Regions from separate parts of the Homo sapiens genome. Here region 2 is linked to region 1. The links come from fine-mapping of genetic effects on gene expression. Tissue or cell type: cerebellar hemisphere. Region 1 holds a variant in brackets; the other region holds the start of a gene. All regions are shown on one strand. Distances are from middle to middle.

Region 1 (2,753 bases):
CCTCCCTGGACCCACCGATGCCTCTCGAAGCCCTGGAGACAGCCGTTGGGTGAGGGTGGGGCCCCCACTTTTTACCAAACTAGTAAACCTGACATTCCAGGCCCATGAGGGGAAAGAGGATCTTCCAGCTCTGCAAAAACAAGAACAAACAACATCACCGTGAATTGGCCTTTCCTGAAAGTGACTTATCTGACACATCTCTGTAGCCACATGCTTTTTGGGTAGAAGAAGCTGGGCATGGGTGCACCCCACCCCCTAGGGTCCCCATGGGAAAGGGACATGCAAGGAAACAGCACAGAACACGAGGTGGTCCCCATGTCCCTGGCACACTAGCATTCCGGGGGATGAGGAATCCCCAGCCCTTGAGGCAGAGGTGCCGAGTGACTGCCATGCTTCGCCCGTCCGCATGGGCGCTTCTGTCCAGCTGCACCCGAGGCCGGGGGTTTCCCTCACCTCGGTCTTCCCAAGATGGAGATGCTAACGAAACTGAGAAGGGGGCGTATGTTTGACGAAGGTTTGTGCAAGTCAGGCCCTTCTGGAACACAGCAGGGCCTACAACGAGGGGCCTTTGCGATGGGCTGTGAGGATGGGGGTGGTGGGAAGAATTGGCCACGTTGGAGACCCCATGCCACCCCACCATGGTGAGTGCTCTGTGCCTCCTGCTCACCTGTGGTGAGCTGGGCGAGCTGGGCGAGCTGGGCGAGCTGGGCTGGGGAGAGCCTGTGAGGACCGAGAGGAGAAATGAGAAGAAGGAACAAAAATATTATTTCTATGTAATTTATATTTTACTTATGCCAAATTATTTATGATAATTTGCCATTGCTATACTGTACCAGTGTCAAATGCTGCAGCCTGCCAAGCTGTGATTTTGTGAGGCTTGTCCCTATGTAGGATGCACCGCAGGCCCCTGGCCACTGAAAGAGTGTGCAGTGGACTGTGGGTCTCCCATATGCGGTGCCGCCCAAAGGTGGCTTTGCCTCAAGCAACCTACCCTGATGTTTTACTCATTGGAATGTTTTTCCCCGATTGTGGATGACTTCTTTTCTGATGGAGAGAGTCCAGGAGGGATGGAAAACTCCTGGATTTAAGCTCAGCATCCCCCACATGGGCTTTTCGATCATCTTCAGGCCTGAAGCTGCACGACCTGAAGTTCGCCTGCATTTATCAGCCCTCTTTGTGCTGCTCCTTGCCACCTTGGGGTTCCTGCTGGGGACCAT[G/C]TGTGGTTGTGGCATGTGTGAGCAGAAGGGAGGATGAGGAAAAAGAGAAGAAACCCCGGTACTGACAAGCTGTTTTTGAGTGCCACTGTTTGCCATCATCTAAGCCACTGAATCAAGTGTATTTCAGGCTTATTTCAACATTCCAATGCCCTGGTTTTCCTGCTTGAATCTGTTCGTGGTCAAAGGTTTGGGGGAATTTGTGACCCTGGAACATCCCCAGAGTGAAAGATGGAGCTGGGCCACATCAGAATAAGGCCTTGGCCCCATCCTCTCACAGCCTAGGTGCTCTGCAGGCATGCTGACTGTCCTGATTGCGATCCAGCCCGAAATTCCCTCCTCTGCTTTCAAAAGTCAAATCCCCCATTCTTAGGCCACACTGGTGTCACAAGCTCCTGTCAGGGAGCTGGGGTTTGGGAATGTGCTTTGTGAACTCTGCTTTAAAGTGAGGGGCCGAGGAAAACTTAGAAACAGGCAGAGTTGGAAGCAGCCAAATCACAGTGGGTGTTGTGTGTGTGTGCGTGTGTGCATGCGTGCGTGTATGCGTGTGTGAAAGCAGGTGGACCATTCCACTTTTTAGCTCCTATTGATGCACCAAACCAAGTGCCTCATTTCTGTGCCAAATGTTTGCCTTGGTCGTTGTGGACCTCCTTCTCTAACTTGCGGTGGCATGACTGTCAGGAGGTGCTGGCATTTTCAGCAGATCCTCATGTGTTGACCCTGATGTCTTTAGCAGAGGCCTCTAGCATCTCGGTTTTTCATCCACTGCAGGAATGTGGCCACAGGGAGCAGAGGTTTGTACTTTCCCCAAGAGGTCCTCATCCTGAGACGGTCTCTACCCATGTTTAACCCAAAGAGTGCAGGCCAGGTTCCTTATCCTTCTGATGAAGGATGAGAGAGCTCATTTAGAAGTCAGAGCAAACTAGGGTCTCAGTATTGAGAAACGCAGCCTGCCAGGGAATCACAGAGACATCGGGGTGCCCGCGATGGCCCTCATGAAGCCATGCCTCGACGGCATTCAGGAAGCCCTGCAAACGTGCTTTTTGAACTCATTGGCCAGGTGTGATTTTTACACAAGGTAAACGTGGTCAAGGGCATCGGGGAATTTGCTCCAAGCAGATAGCTCCCTCTGAGGAACCAAAGGAAGCAAGTTTCCACGATTTCTGAAGAGCTGGTATAGGAAGTTTCTTTCTTCCTTTTGTGTTACATGTGCATTAAACAGAACAAGCTGTGTGTCATCACAGATTGTACTGTGGGCTCAGAAACCGTGAGAGAGCCCCCACCGTGGACACCGGCTCTAGGGCCACAGGAAAAGGAACGTTTCCAGGCATTTTGTCTCCAGGGCTCCCGCTGGACAGGCACGTACTGCCCTGGGGAGTAAATGCGGAGAGTTCACGAACTGTGCCCAACGCATGTTATAGCCAGGGTCCTACTAACTACTCAGTAAAAGAACGTATTGTTGTATTCCTCCAGTGTTAAGCTATAGCCATGTTAAAAGTCACTGTGCATTTATTCTCAGCATCAAATACCTTGTAACGT
Region 2 (2,753 bases), 310 kb before region 1:
GAAGCCTTTGCCTGGGAATAAATACCCAGATCAGTCTGGGGATGAGAAATGACACTACCTTCCAGAGCACAGCAGGGGTTGTTCAAGTCTTCCAGAAAAGCAGCTCTTGTTTCTCCTCATGTGGTGGGAGTGGAGTCAGAGCGTGGCTCAGGCCCCACATTCTCAGCTGTTTGGATCTGGGGACTCGAAGTTTCTGGTGGTTACTTCTGAAAGTCTTTTCCAGGATAATTATTCTTGCTCGGTTTCTCTGCCATCTCTGACAGGCTGTTTTCCCTGCTTCCCCCGCTGCCCTGAAGGGGCCAGAGGAACAGGGCAGGACCCCAGGGCTGCGGATGGGTTAGGCAGCTCTGTTCCCGAATCCAAAGCAGTTCTTGGTGACTGTCCTCCAAGACTTGCCCTGGACCCTGCTCCGGGTGGGATTCTGAGACCGCCTGCTCCACGTGGCAGATGAAATCTAGGTCTCTTCTGTGAGAGGCTGGCGGGGAGGATGTTTTCCTGGAAAGGACCACAGGACAAACCGCTGATGAAATTTCTCTTGTGACCTCCCTGGAGGAAGAGCACTTCTGATTTCTGCAAACTTTTTCCATTCCCCCGATCTCACAAATGGGGAAACTGAGGCTAAGCGACTGAGTTCAGGGCCATCTGAATCTCAGGGATGGACAGTCAGGATGGACAACCTATAGGCCTTTCCTCCTCTGAGAATCTCTCTGCTCGGGATCGTTTTTCTGGTTTCCCCTGGCTTGCCTAAATTCTGCTCATTTGTCCCGGCGCATTTTAAGAAGTCATGTGACTTCTAAAGACTTCCCTGACCTCCTCCCTTCATTAGCTGGGTATTTCAGGGGCTTCTACGGCACCCTAGGCTTTCCGGAGCGGCTGTGCTCCTTTATGTATGCGCGACTCCCACTAGGCTATGAGCTACAGGAGGGAGGGTAGGTCTTGCTCCCGGAGAGCACCTTAATCACAGGCGCTGAATGAAAGAATGAACTGGTTGTGCAGGAACCAGGATCCGAACCCGCCTCCCCAGGTACTCTAACACCGGCCCGGCGGAACCTGCAAGCCTCCAGACCACTTGGAGCCTGGGCTGCTCAATGGGTCTGATAATTCCAGGTCCTCTCTGCGGCCAGCGAAGGGAGGTCCCAGGGCGCACCTCGGCAGGGCGGGGGACCCCGGTGAAGGGCGCCTGGAGGCGCGCTGCATTGTTAGGGTGATGAGGCCAGGTGACCCGCCAGGCTCGGGGCGCGGGCGCGGGGGCCGGCCGTGGCGATTGCCCGCGCCGCCTCGAGGGGGCCCTGCCGCGGGCGCCGGCAGCCAGCCAGGAGGACGGGCCCGCCCGCGCGCTACTCGGAGCCCAGCCTCGTTGCGGCCATCGCCCTGCCGGACCGCGCCTCAGGCTCCCCCAGGTACTGGGGCCGGGGAAGGAGGAAACGCGGCCACGCGCCGCGGTCCTCTTTGTTTCGGGCCCGGCGCGGGCTTTCGCGCTCCGGGCGCAGGAACGAGGCTTGGGGAGCACAGAGATCTGGAGCTGGGGCGCGGGGACTGAGTTCGGGGAGCGCGGAGACAGAGTTCGGGGAGCGCGGGGTACGGGAGCTCAGGGCGCGGGGATGGGGTCACGGGAGAACCCAGGTTAGGGAGCGCGGGGACCCGGTTGGGGGCGCACGGGCAAGGGGTTTGGTGCGCGCGGGTACGGGGTTTGCGGCGCGTGGGGGGCGGGGGCTCGGCAGGAGTCCCAGGACAGGGGCTGGGGCGCGGGCCAGCTTCGCCGGAGTCCGGGGACGGGGGCGCTGACTGGCTGGGTTTGGGGACTGGCTGGGGCGCAGGACCACTCGAGTGGGACCCGTGGCGCCCGGGCGCCCTGGACTGAGGGCAGAGACCGGAGCAGCTATGTCGCAGTCGCTGTCGGGACCGAGCGGACTTTGCTCCCTAGGACTCCGTCTCGAGACTCCAGGTGGAGAGCGCAGCTAGGGGCTTCAATGGGCAGGCTCAAGACCCTTCTCCTACTTTTTCTAGGCAAGCTCTCCAGTGCGTCTCTTTCCCTTTCCCTTTGGTGGGTGGGAGGCAGGGGGTCTTTACGCGCTTCCTTTTTTTCCCTGAAGGACGGGACCTCGGGGTGGGGGGATATTCTGGGGTGGGGGGTGCTGTCCCAGGCTGGGGGCCAGCTGTGTGGCATGTGCCTCCTGGCACGCGGGAGCTGTCGCTGACAAGCAGGAGGAGGGAGGGTCCCGGACGGCCCAGGGGTCTCTGTGTCGGTGCTGTGCAGCGGCCTGACATGTGAGTCCCGGGTCCTTTGCTTGGAGTGATTTGAGTGTCTGTGGCGGGAAGAGATTCAGGCGTTCCTCAGGCATTCTCCAGACAGTGTCAGCAGATGACCCGAACTCCAGCGTGGTTGAAAAACTCAAAGCGCCATCAGGGTGTGGGGCCAGCAGAGAGCACTACTGAGGGTGGTCACAACCCCCTGGGAAGCCCCCAGGCTTCCTTGGGGCGCATTCACACACTTTGATCTTCCGGGTTGGCTTTCCCCCCATTTTTTTCACTATTTGAATGCATGATCATGGAGGACTCTGAAAATATACTGAAAAGTATGAATGCAGAACTCATTGTATTAATATTGCATGGCCCTTCTGAACTAACCAACCCTTTGACATTTTAGATTTTCTTGAGGCTTTGGTCTGTGCATATTAATTTTTTAAATTGCTTTCATGCTTTCCCTTTTGAATGAGGTTTACTTGTTCTGGTGATTCTGGTTCTTCTCTCTT

Alleles and levels. Alleles are on the strand shown, and positions count from the first base shown. SD is a standard deviation of normalised expression in the study named.
As copies of G replace C in region 1, the expression in cerebellar hemisphere of the gene that starts at base 1,340 in region 2 goes down (moderate effect, 0.44 SD a copy in GTEx).

The links. PIP is the estimated chance that this variant, and not a neighbour inherited with it, causes the effect.
Region 2: TNS3 starts here. The variant in region 1 is fine-mapped to the expression of TNS3 in cerebellar hemisphere (GTEx, PIP 0.98).

Annotation. Positions count from the first base shown.
Region 1 is chr7:47,275,312-47,278,064 of GRCh38, reverse strand. It overlaps TNS3 (tensin 3), which reads left to right. Exons shown (of 31, transcript NM_022748.12): 31 at 1-2,753. Among named protein-coding and RNA genes, the nearest start is that of SNORD151, 190 kb to the left of the region's middle. The variant G/C (reference allele first, on the strand shown) is at 1,218.
Region 2 is chr7:47,580,698-47,583,450 of GRCh38, reverse strand. It overlaps TNS3 (tensin 3), which reads left to right and starts at 1,340. Exons shown (of 31, transcript NM_022748.12): 1 at 1,340-1,400. RefSeq lists enhancers at 929-1,466, 1,467-2,004.